Regions from separate parts of the Homo sapiens genome. Here region 1 is linked to region 2. Evidence: fine-mapped QTL for protein levels in blood plasma. A gene starts in region 2. The other region holds a variant in brackets. All regions are shown on one strand. Distances are between the middles of the regions.

Evidence for each region. PIP is the posterior inclusion probability: the model's chance that the variant is causal. The UK Biobank Pharma Proteomics Project read protein levels with antibody pairs (Olink). The fine-mapping took linkage between variants from a reference panel, not from the people measured, so its PIPs are less certain.
Region 1: its variant is fine-mapped to the plasma level of the CD58 protein (UK Biobank, PIP 0.94).

Annotation. Positions count from the first base shown.
Region 1 is chr1:116,526,925-116,535,560 of GRCh38, reverse strand. All of the region lies in intron 3 of CD58 (CD58 molecule), which reads left to right. It also overlaps the pseudogene NAP1L4P1. Among named protein-coding and RNA genes, the nearest start is that of MIR548AC, 29 kb to the left of the region's middle. The variant G/A (reference allele first, on the strand shown) is at 2,705.
Region 2 is chr1:116,566,115-116,574,845 of GRCh38, reverse strand. It overlaps CD58 (CD58 molecule), which reads left to right and starts at 3,820. Exons shown (of 6, transcript NM_001779.3): 1 at 3,820-3,943. The coding sequence starts at 3,874. IGSF3 (immunoglobulin superfamily member 3) reads left to right here. Exons shown (of 11, transcript NM_001007237.3): 11 at 1-438. LOC124904385 (a long non-coding RNA gene) reads right to left here and starts at 3,871. Exons shown (of 2, transcript XR_007066497.1): 1 at 3,793-3,871; 2 at 96-1,032. RefSeq lists enhancers at 516-805, 4,689-4,748 and silencers at 3,619-4,078, 4,149-4,218.

The DNA.
Region 1 (8,636 bases), 39 kb after region 2:
CAACAAGTTACAATTTTTAACAGAAACCCCATTATAGATACAAAGCTAACATTATTTAGCACTTTCTGTGTTGAGCACCATTCTAATACATATGTTAATTAATTCAATCTTCACATCAATCCTCATACAACCTATAAGTTGTGTACTAGTACTTATCCCTGTTTCCTGGTGAGAAACCAACAGAGAGAGAGTTTAAGTTGTTTGCTCAAGGTAACAGCTAGTAAGTGGCAGAACCTGGCTTTGAGTAGAGGCTATCTGGCTCTAGAGCCCATGGTTTTAACTATTCACAATGCTGCTTTATAATATTGTTATAATATCATTATGTTCTGAAAGGTTACATATCTACTACAGGAACATGCATTTGATATGTTTCCTTAGGCCTAACACTAAGTTAATATCATGACAATCTGTCTTGGCTATGATTTTCTAATGTTGTTTTAGTATTATTTACATTTGTAATTTTTATTATCTGTTTTTTACATTATATCCCCAGTTTAACAAACAAAAAGGTCAGTGACTTGAAAGTGGTTTATTAAAATATAAAAGAGACGAAAATAGTAAATACTATTATTCAGAATAATATAATTGTAAATAGTGAACAGGATTCCAGGGCAAATAGAGAATATGAGTCTCTAGGGCTGGGATAAGGTGAGTCTATGAATGAAATTTTTCTGAACAAGCAGCTGAAACAGATAAGGGAAATTAGCAAATACAAGAAATATATGAAACTTGGATTTTAACTGGTGAGCCATTCTAAGTCTCCCATTTATTGTCTTTTCTGAACCCTTTCAAACAATAACTTAAAGCCATTAAAGTTATATTATTTTCAGACAAAGCAGAGTCACTTTTGGGAAAGGAAAGACATTTTTCAAGAAAAAGTAGACGTCCTCGTCAGGGTGGGCAGCGCCGCCGCGGCGGGCCTGGGGCTTGGGGCCTGGAGCGGCCCCTCCCAGCACCCGGTGCGCCCCTGCCCTGCCGCCCACTGCCCTGAAGGTCAAGTCGCTTTGTTCTGCGCTGCGGGCGGCTTCCTCGCCGGCGGCCCAGCGGAGGAGGCGTAGAGGGCGGCGAGTGGGGGCTGGCAGCTCAAATCTCCCGCTAGCCCAGCCAGCCCCGCGTACCCGGAGGGCCGCGGCGCACCCGGAGGAGCATTCAGGCTTCCCGTTTTTAAGGTGGAGACGTCCAGGACCTCTTTATTAGATGTTTAGGAATTTGAGTTTTTCCGTAGGGCGATGGTCATCGTGAGCATCTGTGGGGTCAGGCTGGGCTAACTGGGGTTTTGATTGTAAGTTTCGTGTGGACGAGGGCATGTCTGATGGGGAAGAAAGTCCTTGGCATTGCATCTCAGCTGTTGGGAGCTGTGCGGTGCGAGCCAGATGGGCGGCGTGTGCTCCCCGAGGACTGGCCTGAGTGCCTTAGCCTAGTTACTCACGGGACTTGGTTTACCAGACAAGGGGATAAAAACATTCAGATGGCAGATAACAGTTTTTCAGATGGGGTTCCTTCAGATTTCGTGGAAGCTGCTAAAAATGCAAGTAAGACGGAAAAGCTCACGGATCAGGTGATGCAGAATCCTGGAGTTTTGGCAGCTTTACAGGAGCGACTTGACAATGCCCCTCACACCCCTTCCAGCTACATCGAAACTTTACCTAAAGCAGTAAAAAGAAGAATTAATGCATTGAAACAAATTCAGGTGAGATGCGCTCATATAGAAGCCAAGTTCTATGAAGAAGTTCATGACTTGGAAAGAAAATATGCAGCATTATACCAGCCTCTCTTTGACGAGAGAAGAGAATTTATCACCGGTGATGTTGAACCAACATCTGATATGGAATCAGAATGGCACCGTGAAAATGAAGAGGAGGAGAAATTGGCTGGAGACAGGAAAAATAAAGTAGTCATAACAGAAAAAGCAGCAGCAACAGCTGAAGAGCCAAATCCCAAAGGAATTCCAGAGTTCTGGTTTACCATCTTTAGAAATGTAGATATGCTAAGTGAATTAGTCCAGGAATATGATGAACCAATCTTGAAATACCTGCAGGATATTAAAGTGAAGTTTTCTGACCCTGGACAGCCTATGTCTTTCATATTAAGAGTTCCACTTTCAACCCAATGACTGCTTTGCCAACTCAGTCCTGACAAAAACCTGCAAGATGAAATCAGAACCAGATAAGGCTGATCCCTTTTCATTTGCAGGTCCTGAGATCATGGACTGCGATGGGTGTACTATTGACTGGAAGAAAGGAAAGAATGTTACTGTCAAAACCATCAAGAAAAAGCAGAAGCGTAAGGGTCCAGGCACTGTTAGAACAATTACCAAACAAGTATCCAATGAGTCATTTTTCAACTTCTTCAATCCACTGAAAGCATCTGGGGACGGAGAATCACTGGATAAAGATTCTGAATTCGTATTAGCCTCTGATTTTGAAATTGGACACTTTTTCCGTGAGCGGACCACAGGCTGTGCTGTACTTCGCTGGGGAGGCCTTAAAGGATGATGACAATTTTGACGAAGGTGAAGAAGAAGAGGACGAATTAGAAGGTGATGAGGAGGGAGAAGATGAGGATGAGGTGGAAATTAATCCCAACAAGGAACCCAGCCAGCCGGCGGAATGCAAGCAGCAGTAGGAAGTGGAGGTGGGCGCCTGGCAGACCGGCTGTCGCGACTCCGGGCCTGTAGCGGGAGGCCTCAGTCTTTGCCGCATGC[G/A]GCACAATCCCGTCGACAGCGCTTACTCCATCTAATCGTTTTCAAGTGCATGATTTTCACTTTCACTTTTCCTTTTTCCTTATTATTTTGCTTAATGTGTACAGTGGCAACTGAAATGCATTTCAGAAATAGGAGGTTTTGTCCAATACCCTCTGCAGCCTTGGTGCCTGTAGCTCTGGACTTGCCTGGACCCTTCCCTGCGGGAGGGCCCCATAGACCCCATTGGGGTGGGGTGGGATGGGGTGGGGATCACTTGGCTAAAAGGGCCGAGGTCTGGTGATGAGGTTCCAGGGATCTAGAACCTCTCCTACCACTCCTGCAGTTGGACTGAATTCTTTCCTTTCATTTGAAGAAACCCACTCGCTGTTTTCAGCTGCTTAATCTGCTGAGTGTGCAGCCTGCATCACCTGCTGTATGCTAATCATCTCAGAAGGGCCGTGTAGAGTAGGGCCGTATTCTCCTTAGGATGTTGCTTTTTGATCTTCTTTTTTAAGGGTTGGGTCAGGGTTGTGGCACACCAGCTCAGGCGAGAGCTGCCACGGGTCACCTCATATTTATTTATCCCTTCTTGCCTGTGAGGACTGCGGCCTTTTGCTGTCGCTCGTCCTTGCCATTTCTGAACCACCCTGGTGACCTGAGCAGGAAGATGTGCCACTTCCTAGCAGGAGCAAGGGCTGTGCGGAAGAAACACTGCTTCCTGCCACCAGGGCTGAAGACGCGAGCCTGTCCTCGTGACACAGGCACCGCCCTGCTGCCGGAGTTGGGATTCGGCAGTGTTCTCCAGTGAGGGGCTGGGCTGGGAAGTCCTGCGTTTCATTTGAGCATATGAGCGTCAAGTCCTGCTTTCTCAGTAGTCCCATTGCTGGGCCCCACCATTCATCCTGTCTGAAGGTCCTGGTTGGTGTGACCGGTTGGTGGCTGGTGAGTGGGGTTTCCAAGTGGGTGACAGCGCTCTGTGGCAGCCGGGGATGGCCTTGTCCGCGCTGACCAGGCCTGTAGAGAGTGCTCAGCCTAACCTTAGAACACATTTATAACTGAATACAGTGTTTTCAATTTGTACATAATAGTTAGAATATTCTATTAAAGTTATGAAACACGGAGAAAAAAAAGAAAAAGTGCAAATGAGTCCCAATTTATAACTGATAGATTTGATTTTTGAAGACAGAGAAAAGATCAAACCCACAGAGGTGTCACTCAAAGGAGCACTGTTTGTACAAGTCACACAATTGCAAGAAGTTTTTAAAACGAGCTGCAAAGTTAAAATAGTTAAGCTTGGAGCAAACATTCCTTTATTAATTCCACCTTTTGAGTGTTACATAATACCCAAGGCATACGATATGGAAATGCAATTTGTTGTAAAAGCAGATAGTTGCTTTATAATGGGAACAACAAAAAATAAAACCAGTGTGCTTTTGCCTTTTGGTATATGTGTGCTGCATCTAACTGACAAGGGGGAAGAAGATGACCACATATAGACAGAGCAAGCAAGTTGAAATCTTGAAAAGTTTTAAGTGTTCCAAGAGACAAAATACTTGAAGGAAATAATTTCTGAGTAAGATCCCTCTATAGAATTACATGGAATATTTTAGGGGATTTTTAAAGGTTTTGCCCTTGCAAAACTTTATGTTTAACTTTATGTTTGCCATTAGAATTTGAAGACACAAAGTAAAATTACTCTTACTGAAAGTAAGATTACTTTCCCTGTAAATAGTCTGGTAAAAGATCATAAGAGGAATGATATTCCTCTTATTGATTTGAAATAAGTACTATTAATTTGAAAAAATTCTTTTAATTATTAAATAATGGTGATTTATCCTTCTTTTACATTTTCTTCCAAATTGATAGTTCACATATATACAACAGATTTTGAAAGTTTGAGGAATGTTGCTTGATAGGTCTTAGGTTTAAATCCTGGAGTAGTGTTGACATCTGAGACATATGTCTGGGCTTCTGACCCTGGTTTCTGTTAACCAAATATTGGAGGACCTTCTCCTTTTAAAATGCAAACCAGGAGCTGAACTTAATGATCTTAATGGTTCTTTTGAACAGTAACAGTCTAGGATCTTTTTTTTTCTGAGATGATTTTTGAATGCTTTTGTGTGGAACCACATGCATCATAATAGATACAAATCCATGAAAGTATAACAGTTAAATACTAGATCTTACTTTTTCAGGTTTTGATTTCTCATCTAAACTTTCCAATGCTTTATCAGTGAAGCAAACTAACTCACATTGACTAGCCTGCTCTCCTTTAGCAAACCCTTCAAATAAATGCCTCATTTGCTCCTCACCACTATCATTTTAGATTGGCCAGACAGTTGTTACTTACCTTTTAAGAATGAGGAGACAGGTAGCCGGGTGCGGTGGCTCACACCTGTAATCCCAACACTTTGGGAGGCTGAGGCGGGTGGATCACGAGGTCAGGAGATCAAGACCATCCTGGCTAACACGGTGAAACCCCGTCTGTACTAAAAATACAAAAAATTAGTCAGGTGTGTTGGTGGGCACCTGTAGTCCCAGCTACTTGGGAGGCTGAGGCAGGAGAATGGCATGAACCCGGGAGGCGGAGCTGGCAGTGAGCTGAGACCACACCACTGCACTCCAGCCTGGGTGACAGAGTGAGATTCCGTCTCAAAAAAAAAAAAAAGAATGAGGAGACAGGGTCAACCAGGTGGGGTGACTTGCCCAGGGTCACTTAAGTATTGGAGATAGAATTAAAATTTAGGTCTTTGAATTCCAGAGTGTTTTTGTATGATACCATCCTGACTCTCTATACGTTTCAAAATAAATCAAATTTTAAAGTTTTCTTTGATTTATTCATATGAATGAGCTAGAGAAACCCATACTATATAGATATACATAGTAGATATTGGTCAAATGTAACTTAATTTTTTACCTCATTATCTCATGTTTCTTGTAACATTTTGTCTAGTAGGACCTTTTTGTGGTTTGTCATCATTTTAGTCATGACATCTACTGTCATACCGTCACTGCAACCCAGAAATGGGGCGATGGGGTTACTAACTAGTTAAACACAATCTAAAGGAGAATTTTAGAGACAGTTAAGATTGAGGACAGAGTTCTTGTCCAACTCGTATTGTACTGGGGGAATGAACTAATACTTACTGAAGGCCTGCTCCACAACAAACTCCTGTAAATGATTTACATAAATGTGTCACATTTAATCCACACAACAACCCAGTGGTGTGGGTATTTATAAAGGAGGAATCTGAGGCACAGTGAGGTTAAATAACTTGACCAAATATACACATTTATTAAGAGCAAAGCCAGGATTTGACATCCAACTCCATCTGAACTCAAAGCACTGTGTCTTCCCCACTGTACTGGGAAGTAAAAGTAAGAAGATGACTCAGAGATGGAGAATTATAATCTGGAATTTGGAATTTACTTCCATTGGTTAACCGTTTGAAAATTGCAGCTCCAAGGCATTGGGAGATGGAAAGAAAGCTAGTGAGCAATTATTTCTTGCCTTTGTGTCATGCTCCTACATTTTGCTCCTCCTTATCTCCTTATCTGCGGTCAGAGTAGATAGCATGGAGGTTTTATGCCCATGCTACAGATGTTCAGAGATCTCAAGGTCAGAAAGCTGGTTTATGGCAGCACGTGAATATAGACAGACTTATACAGATTAGAAAATTGAGAAGTTGAGGGCAGGAGAAAATTCTGGATAGAAGAGAACATGGGATTGGGAGCAAGAAAACCTAGGTCCTAGACCTGATTTCATTGCTTACTGGCAGTGTGAATGTGGGGGATAATAATACTTACTTTACAAGGGCTGAGGAAATTAAATAAAATAGCATGTGGGAAAGAGTATTGATGGTTAGTCACTATAAAACTGCTAGTTGTTATTCAGGATACAGGAAGAGTTTCAAGAGAGGACATTTGGTATAACATTATATACAGCCAATGGTTTAAGGAGGACAATGTAGAAGAGGTTGTGGATTTGGCACTTAGGAGGTCATTGTTGACAGACCTTGTGAATAGATGAGGGTAGGAACCAGATTCCTGGGCTTTAAGTAAGAAGAGGGGTAGTCCAATAGGCCAGTTATATATTTGGCTGTGAAAGAGGAAAATAAAATCTGAGTACCTTTGAGAGTCAAAGGCTATTTCCAGGTAAAGAAACCCAGTGCACTTCACCATTCTCTTTTAGATAACTGCTGGGAAGAAGTAGGATGATTGTAACACCCTCCACATTGACACAGAACTCTAAATGGGAGCCTAGGGAAAGGGCACATTTTTTGAAGGGGTAGGCAAGAGGATATTCTCTAGAGTACCAGTTTCCAACTGTTGTACACATTTATGGACCAAGAACATAAAAGAAACATTGTTCAGTTCCGACCTGAAGTTATGTAGAACAAACATTGTTCTGAGTTCAACTAGATGATCTTTCTTTCATAGCTGTGTGGACATTATGTTACCTGCAGGGAGTAAGTCACTGAAGGTAGAGCCTCAAAAAAACACCCTTTGATCTTACTCCTAAGAAAAAAGAGAGAAATTGGAAAAATTCATCATAGAAACACAAAAATATGCGGAAATAGGAAAAAGGAGAAGAAGGAAAGAAATGCAACATAGGAAATAATATTATGTAGACTGAGATAAAGAATGTTAAGAATATTTGAACAAAGTTTGAACCAGATGAAATGTAACAGGCAGAAACAGAAGTAGGAGGATTTTTGGACTGATTTAAGTTGGTCTCTTGTGACTTTTATGACTTTCCACTGGGAAGAATAGTGATTAAGAATGTTCACTCTGCTTTTAAAAATTGAGAAAGAACGCTGCGTGCAGTGGCTTATGCCTATAATCCCAACACTTTGTGAGGCCAAGACGGGAGGATTGCTTGAGGCTGAGAGTTCGAGACCAGCCTGGGCAACATAGGGAGACCCTATCTCTACTAAAAATTAAAAAGTTACTGAGGTGTTGTGGCATGTGTCTGTAGTCCTAGCTACTTGGGAGACTGAGGTGGGAGGATCACTTCAGCCTGGCAGTTTAAATAAATCAGATCAGTAATTAATAATCTTCCAAAACAGAAAGCACCAGGTTCAGATGGGTTCATTGGTGAATTCTACCAGATATTTAAGGAAGAAATACTAATTCTCTATAATCTCTTTTAGAAGATAGAAGCAGAGGGCATACTTTCCAATTCATTTTATGAGGCCAGCATTATTCTTGTGCTAAAACCAAAGAACAATACAAGAAAAGAAAATTAAGACAAATATTTCTCATGAACATACATGTAGAAACCTTAAACAAAATATTAGCAAATTGGATCCAACAGCATATAGAAAGAATTATACATCATGACTAAGTGGTATTTATCTCAGGTGTGCAAGGCAGGTTCAACATATGAAAATCAATTAATGTAATCCATCACATTGACAGACTATGAAAGAAAAATCACATGATCATACCAATAGATACAGAAAAAGCATTTGACAAAATCCAACATCAATTTATGATAAAAACTCTCAGTAAACTAGGAATAGAGGGGAAACTTTTTCAACTTGTTAACAAATGCCTACAAAAAACCCTGCAGCTAACATCATCTGTAATGGTGAGAAACTTGAAGCTTTCCAACTAAGACCAAGAATAAGGAAATAATGTTCTTCTCACCACTCCTTTTCAGTATTGTACTATAAGCACTAACTAATGCCATAAGACAAGAAAAGGAAATAAAAGTTATACAGATGAGAAGAAAGAAAGAAAATTGTTTTAGTTCTCAGATGACATGAATATCTATGTATACAATCCAAACGAATTGACCAAAAACCTCCTGGAACTAATAAAAAACTATAGCACATTTGTAGGATACAAAGTTAATATACAAAAGTCAATCACTTTTCTATAACAGCAATGAACAAGTGGAATTTGAAGTTTAAAACACAACACCATTTACCTTAGCACCCCAAAAATG
Region 2 (8,731 bases):
GCCATTTCTATGGAAATGCGATGTCAGATGGATGGTAATGGTGCCCTCCAGTGGCTGTGAGACCTCATTGCGCATTGTCTACTGGAGCTTTAGTCTTCTGAGACGGAGGAAAACTGCTGAATACTCTGGATTCATCTATGTCTACAATGTTGCATTTATGAAAAACTACACTGTGCTAGGCGCATTCTAGGACATGAATATGACCACACCCTCTTTCACCGGGTGTTTCTGTAGCAAGTTTTCATATTCTTTTCAAACAATGGTTTCTCTGCGTTAATTATTGAGGAAAAAAAAAGATGGGGTAAGAAAACTACCCATGCATGATGTAGAGAGCTGTTGATTTGTTTCTGTTTTTTTAAAGGAAAACTATTTGTAAGATGTTGCACTAAAACATTTTATATACACTTCAGAGACCTGTAGTAAATTATGTTGAAAATACGGCTGTTTACATTTACTGCAGTCTTCTATCCTTCTTTCCCCTTACTAACCAGCCCCCTTCCTCTGTGGAACTGTGCTGTGGGAGCCTACAGTTCTGCCCTTGGCATTGGCCTGCTAGGCTCAAGGTCTGTGAATTGCAGTCTTTATTATTACACCCCATAACCTTCAAATGATAAAAACACCTCTTCCTCAAGACACTTCACTGCCATCTGCTGCAACATATAGTAAATAGACACCTCCACCCCGATGATCAAGGCTATGCTACCTCTAGAGCTGTGCAACACACAACACACCTAGCCCCTGAAAGCCAGGTTCAGAATGTAGATCTTATAACCTGTAGCGTTTTTGTTGGGGGGTGGGGTGGGGGTAGAAGCCGGATGAGAAGGAGAGCAGGAACACAGGATGGCCTTCTCTAGGGCCTCTGCGGCAAGTCCACACCATCCTTTTCCAACTATGAAGTGCTGCCCTGGCCATGAAATGCAGCGGGGATTTCCCAGAATGGTGATAAAAGCAGGAGTTGTGCATTCTAGTTAAGTGAGACTGCACAGCGCACTGGTCTCTGTTTCCTCTTCCAGTGTTGGGAGGGGTTTACATCTGCAAATTGAGAAGAATGTTAGAATGATTAAAACCATAGCAGTGATACGTGATTAGTCAGAACCCATCTATAATTCTTTAAAATTCATAGAATATGCAAAAAGGAACTAGATAGTAAGAAGCAGAGGGAGACACTTCTTTTTTTCTTCTTTTTCTAAATCCAAGACTTTCAAAAGCTTTCGTGTGTGCTTTCCTCTGCTCCCAGAACCATTGGCTGCATCCTTATCAACTCCTTGCAGCTGCTGGCTTGGCCAGGAGTTGAAAATGTGACTGCCTCTCCCTTGGGTACCCATAATGGTTCCATGTTAAGTCTTATGTATAATTTTTCCTAATTTTTTTCTAATGTTCTTTTTCTGCCAGGGTATGTTTTAAAAAGGGAAATAGAGTATTATGGAATAAGATTACCCTTCTATGTCCTTCGTGCAAATCCAACCAGTATTTATATAAATGAATGTATGTTCCCTCATGAGGCATGCAATGAAAATGACAATTTGCATTTATGCAGGATTGAGCAGTGTTTTGCTCACTACATTCTGGGATTCCTAAGCTTTGTGGGAGTAGTTCCAAAGGTTTGGCAGAAACGAGAGTCAAGACACCAGAGAGTGGCATGCTAGGAAGAACAGCCCCGGCCTCTTCAGCTGCCCTCTTTTCTTACTTTCTCATCCATGATTATCTACAGTGACAAGAAGATAAAACTGGACCTTGCAATACTAGTCACAGCATGAAAAATACATCCACCCCTCCTTTTGATAGCAGGTTCTCAGTATGTAAAGGGAATCTTTTTGGCTGCCTGCTTAACGCATTGCAGGTCCAGCATTCCTGAGCTGCTTTTGATTCATAAAATTAACCAGGCATTTGAGGGCTTCTAAAAGTGCTTGATGGACAGCATTTCTCTCAATGAAAGAGCAGGCACTGCTCCTTGGTCAAAGGAGAGTCCAACCAAGGAAGCCTAATGAGTTATTCCTCACCCAATACCTGGAGACCATGACCTGGGGGTGAGGGGCTTCCCCAGCCCCATGTGACTGGGCTGTTCTTTCCTCAGCCCTGCTCTTAAGGGGCTTAACAGCTCTTGCTGGCAGTCCAAATGGCTGCATAGCTGTCAGTCCAAAAGTCCCATTATCATATCCCGTTCCTGTATGAAGGGATAAGAGTAGAGGCATTGGACATGGCCTCAGCTGGACTCCAAGTTCTGCCCTTTACTGTGTGCCCTGAGTAATTTACCTTCCCCAGGCATCAGTTTCCTCATTTGCAAAAACAACAGCAGCAGTAAGACTAAGTTAATCCAAGCAATGCACTTCACACAGGGCCTGCTCAATAGATGTTTGCTGTCATATCACTTCCCAGCTCAAAAACTTTCTGTGGCTCCCCAGTGTCTGAAGGTCTAACCCCATCCTGCCTTTCTAAGTTGGCCTGAGTTCCTACCAGCCCAGGGCAGAGAACACTTGATTTCCTCATATTTTATGTTACACACTGCCCCTGCCTTGTGTTCCCAGTATCTACAGATGGTAGGGAATATCTCGAGATAGCAGGTTTGTGGTAGAGGGCATTGGTCCCAGAAGTTTCACTGATAGAGATACCTTTTAAGATTTTATGGCTAACTTAAGAAATAATTCATGTCTCTTTGCAATATGGTTCAAGTGTCTTGAGTGACTTCGAGTCCCCACCTGGGGATAATGGAGGTGAAGCAGCAAGAAAGCACATTCCCACTCAGTTTCACAACCTGCACCATGTATGTGTTGGTGGTTATTTGGGCAGCAGGGAGTCCTGTTCATGGAAATGGATTCCTGCTCACATAATAACTAAGAGTTCTGTGAACTCCCTCAGCTGGGCAGGGGCAACTCTGGTGCTTCTGTCTGCAAGAAAGGGGACAGACAGGGAGGCTGATGTGAGGAGCTGGTTCTGGGAATAGGGTCATTTGTTCTGGGATATAGGGATGTGAGGGGAGGGCCAGCTCAATCCAGACTGATGAAGAGCGGGGAGAGTGATGAGTGCCTGCCTCAGCTTGGGCTGGATGGATGTGGGGAGGCTGGGCAGTGAGGGAGATGTGGATCTGACATCTCAGCCTGAGGGAAAGTCCCGGTTGAGATGGGGGAAGACAGAAAAAGAGGAATCTGAGAAGGGAGAAACCAAAGGCTGGAAATCCCAGCTCCGGGGATAAGGGAGTATGGGGACGGGGGAGGCCTGCCTCAGGTAACCCTACGCCTAACAGTTGTCTAAAATGCTCCCTTTCCTTGTCATGTTTGAGGAAAAGTGGTTCAAAGAGGCCGTCTGATGCGGGATCACACAGCGCTGAAGGGATGAGGGGCCCCGGGTGCTCCCGCCCGTCCTGCTGCCTCCTCCGGTGGCTCTCTGGGAGCCACAGCCCCGTCTAGCCACGGAGGGGCCTACAGCACGCCCCAAACGCTAAGGGGAAGCGCGGGAGGTGCGGTAGGAAGGCAGAGAAACCTGGTTTTTAAAACCAAGCCATTTTCAAGGAAAGAATTTCTTACTTTAAAACCTTGGTTTTTAAAACCAAGCCATTTTCAAGGAAAGAATTTCTTACTTAAAAATAGCGTATGGAATGGCGGCGGAATGACGGGAGGGACCGAGCTGGGGGACTGGACGGCGCCCCGGGGACACAGGAAGGAGGCGCGCAGAGCCGAGGCCAGAGGCGCGCCCGGGGAGTGGAAGCGCGAAGACAAACGCGGCGCCGCGGAGGGTGGGGGAGGAAGGGCCGGGGCGGGCCGCCGGCTGCCAGCCCAGGGCGGGGCGGAGCCCTACTTCTGGCCGACCGCGTAGGCGGTGCTTGAACTTAGGGCTGCTTGTGGCTGGGCACTCGCGCAGAGGCCGGCCCGACGAGCCATGGTTGCTGGGAGCGACGCGGGGCGGGCCCTGGGGGTCCTCAGCGTGGTCTGCCTGCTGCACTGCTTTGGTGAGTGAAGCCTGCCCCAGGGGCCCCGCGCCGGCCGGCGGGTACTGGGCAGCACCCAGGCTGGGTGGACGCGCCGGGCTCGAGGCGGTTGCCGATCAGAGACGGGTGGGGACGGGTCGCTGTGGGCCGGGAACAACTCAGCCGTGGGAGCCTTTTCAGGAAGAGAAAGTTGTTATTTCATCGCCAGTGTCCCTCATGGAGTCAGCAAGGAACTGTGTGGCCTTAGGGAAGGACGGGCTCCGGCCCGCTAGCCTCTCCTGCGGGGCCTGCGCCCCCCCGCCGGCCCCCTCCCGAGCTCCAGTGACCAAGTTCCTTCCTGGGCTTCCCCAGTAACGTCGCTGAGCGCTTCAGCGGACTGCAAAATTTTTCCCAGCCGTGAACGCGCCCGGGACGGGGAGCGGGCGCGGATGCCACCTGCTCGAGGGCGACGCCTGCTGCCCTCCCCGCGCGGTGCCGTCCCCGCCCGCGCGGCGTCCGCCGTATCAGCAGAGAGGACTTTTCAGAATCGCCCCACAGCGAGGAGCGGGTAGGCAACTAGGAAGCCCAGTCGGCAGCGGCCTCACGTTGGGATTCCTAAGTGGTGCGACTCCTGCTCCTTTTTCCTCCCCTCAAATCCTAAAAACTAGTATCAGAACTGGTTCCATCCTCTCCGTGTGTTGTCAGCCAAGTCGTCACAACAACCTCAGGAAATAGGTCCCCTTCTTCCCATTTTGCCTCCCCATCCTCCTTCACCCTCCACACATTGGCCCCAGTCAGGCCATAGCAAAACCCCGGGAGTACAGCAGTAACCTCCCAGCGAGTTCAACTGTACTTGAGGGGTTCTCATGGCTGGCTCCTGCACCCCACTGCCAGCCCTCCAGCCCGTCCGTCCGTTTGCTCAGCGTCCGCTGCCTGCCCGGGAGGTGCGCGTGTGCATCTATGGAAGACAGCCAAGGGGGAGGGGTTGAGATAGACTCAAAAGTACCCGCACGATCAGATAAGTCAGTGTTGTAAGAGGCCTGGGCTGGGCGTGGTGGCTTACACCTGTCATCCTAGCACTTTGGGAGGCTGAGGCAGGTGGATCACTTGAGGCCAGGAATCGGAGACCAGCAGGGCCAACACGGTGAAAGATCGGCTCTACAAAAAATACAAAAATTAGCTGAGCGTGGTGGCGCATACCTATAGTCCCAGCTACTCGGAAGGCTGAGGTGGGAGAATCACCTGAGTCCCGGAGGCAGAGGATGCAGTGAGCTGTGATTGTGCCACTGAACTCCAGCCTGGGTGACAGAATATGACCTGTCTCAAAAAAAAAAAAAAAAAAAAAAGGTGAGCTGTGAGGGTACAGAGGGAAGAAGAAGGCAGTCTCTTTTGTGAAATCAAGTGTCTTTTGTGAAGCAGTCTTCATGGGAGGGAGGATATTTGAGCCCAGCCTTCAAGGACTGGTGATGTGTGGACATGTGATAATGTGGGAAAAGATTGCTGAGTGTCCCCTTAGGGAGTCTGGATTCTCTGAGCTGAGAGAGCTTCTCCTGGGCCTTACAGGATCAGGACCATGCGCCTGGGAAGAAGAATCTGTTAGCAACAAAGAGGAAGGCTGCAGTCAGGAGGAATTGGAGGCAGGGAGGCCAGAAGGCCAGGGTGGACTACCATCACAGGGCCCAAATAGCTCTGGGGAGTTCATGTGCGGGTGGCTGGGGAAAAGAAGAGATACAAACAGGGATTAATTGAATGGATGGGGTAACTCTCCTCCAGGCAAGCTGGTCCCTCATTCCCTGGCACCTTGGGTCACTGCTGCCTGTACCTGTGTTCTCCCTTCCACTGCAAACCCAGTTTGCCCAAGCTCCACCTCCAACAGATTATTTGAACTGTCCCTTCCTGGTGATCTCTCTCACCTAATTCATGTATTCATTCAGAAGTCATTTGATTCAGCAAACATGTATTTATAAACTGCTCTGCATAGGCCTTAAACTAAAGACAAGACTGAATGGGTATATCCCCTTTTGGGGACCCAAGCCTGCCTCATTAGGGAAGCTGCAAATGCAGTGATTAACAGCATCAGCTCTGGGGTCAGATGCCTAGCTTTGGATCCTGGCCCCACTCCTCACCTGAGTCATGAACTTGTGTGAGTTCCCTAACTTCTCTTCACTTCAGTACCTTCACTTTTGAAGAGAGTACCACTCACATGAGGGAAAGGAGAATAATAAACCCACTTCATAGAATTACTGGGAACATCAGTCATGCAATAAATATTTACTGAGTGTCAATTATATGTTAAGCACTGCACAATGGACGGGGGATACAGCAAGCTATGCACAGTTCCCTGCCTTTGTGAAGCTCACCTTATAGTGAGGGAGAGAGACAGTAAGTAAATGAGTAAAAACATGGATGCTGGATGGTGATAAAGTAAACATTTACTAGTACAGAGATGAGTAAAGCAAAGAAAGGGGTGATGGAAGTCGTTAATACTTCAGTTTAGGGTTTTTTTTGAAATTTTAGAACAATTAAAATCTTTAGGACAGTTGCAAAATTAGTACAGTGAACATTTGCGTACTTTCTCCTTGAATCACCAGTTAACTGTCACATTAGTTTTCTTTGTTATTTTTGCCATCTGTTATTTTTGCCAAACCATTTGAGAGTTTCAGATCTCATGACACCTCACCTGTAATTCTTTATCATATGTCTCATAAGAACAAGAGCATTCTCCAACAAGTCACAGAATCATCATAATCTGGAAATGTGGCATTGATACAATACTGTTTCCTGGTAGAGAACCCAGAAGCCAGTCCTGCACCACATACTTCATTTGATAATCATGCCTTTTTAACCCCCTTTAACCTAAAACTGTTGCTTTTTTTTTTTTTTTTTTTTGGTACTTTAAGACATCATCATTTTTGAAGTGTCTGGGCTAGTTGCTTTACCGAATGTCCCTTTGGATGTGGATTGCCTGCTTGTTTCCTCATGATCAGATTCTGGTTGTAACTCTTTGTAGCAGGAATACTTCATAGCTATGTTGGGTCCTTCTCAGTGTGTCACATCAGGAAGATGTGGTCTGTTTGTCACATTATTGGAGATGTTAACTTTGACATTTGGTTAAAGTGAAGTTTACCAGATTTCTCCATTGTAGAGGCACCATTTTACCTTTGTAAGTAATAAATGATGTGTTAAGTGATGTTTTGAGGTTGAGTGAATATCCTGTTCTCCAGCCATTGTTCATTCAGTGGTTTTAGTATCCTATGGTGATTCTTCCCAGAATCCATTATCACTAAAATATTTTATTTTATTTTTTGAGACAGGGTCTCACTGTGTCACCCAGGCTGGAGTACAGGGGTGCTATCACAGCTAACTCCAGCCTCGACCTCTGAGGCTCAAGCAATTCTGCCACCTCAGCCTTCTGAGTAGCCAGGACTACAGGTGCATGCCACCATGCTTGGCTAATTTTTTTTTAGTTTTTGTAGAAACAGGGTTTCCCTATGTTGCCCAGACTGGTCTTAAACTCCTGGGCTCAAGTGATCCTCCCTCCTTGGCCTACCGAAGTGTTGGGATTACAGGCATGAACCACCACATCCAGCCACTAAAATATTTTCAAATGGTAATTTTCTTCCCCCACCCTTGTCCCTTTCTTCTCCCTCCCTCCCTTCCTTCCATCCTTCCTCTCTCCCCTCCCCTCCCTCCCTCCCCTCCCCTCCCTTTCCCTCCCCTCCCCCTCCCTTCCTGTCCCTTCCCTTCCCTTCCCTTCCCTTCCCTTCTTTCCTTCTTTGTTTCATTGCCTTTTCTCTTTTCTTTTGAGACACAGTCTCACTCTGTTGCCCAGGCTAGAGTATAGTGACACAATTATGGCTCACTGCAGCCTTGATCTCCCAGACTCAAGCGATCCTCCCACCTCAGTTTCCAAATAGCTGGGACTACAGGGACATGCCTTCACGTCCACCTAATTTTTTTGTATTTTTTATAGAGACGGGGTTTTGCCATGTTGCCCAGGCTGGTCTTGAACTCCTGGGCTCAAGCAATCCTCCCAAGTCAGTTTCCCAAAGTGTCGGGATTATAGGCATGAGCCACCCAGCAATTTTCTCTTCTGTTTCTCTCTATATATATATTTATTAGTTTACATTGTTCAGTAATGGATAGCTTTTGCACACACATCCTCCCTTTTTTTCTTTTATTTTAGAAGGTTATGTGGACTCATGGATTCTTTTTTAAATATGGCATTCCTGTCATCCATTTTGATGCTCGGCAACCCCACATTTGACAAGTGGGAACACCTTCAAGCTTCAGAGTCCTTTTGCTCTGTTTGTTCCTGTTTGATTTTAAACACTTCCTTACTTTCTGGCACAGAAAGATGTTCTGGACTCATCTTGTAGTGTTCCTGCCTCAGCCTTCGAATCATTAGGTTCCCTGGTTTCTTTTAGTGAGAGATGGTATTTAGAAATCAAGTTCTGGGTGCAAAGTGTGCCCACAGGTACCAGAGTCATTGCTTCTCAGCCTTGTCAGTTTTCAAAGTTAAGAAATAGAGTTTTTACAAAGTCAGGAGTTCACCCTGATACTTCTAACACTAATAATCTTGCTGCTTAGTTCTTCTGCCTCTTCTGCTCTTCCATATTTGCATCTCCTTACTCCCACAGTGAGAACTCTGTTCTTAGTAGCATCAGTATATTTTCCTAATCTACATTAAACCCCAAATCATTTTACAGTTGCTATACCAATCTACTACCAACTACAAACTTACTAAATACAGTTAAAGATTTCTTTACAGTTCCTTTTATTTTTCATTACAGTCTCCAACTTAGCAATGGTTCGACTTAAGATTTTTCA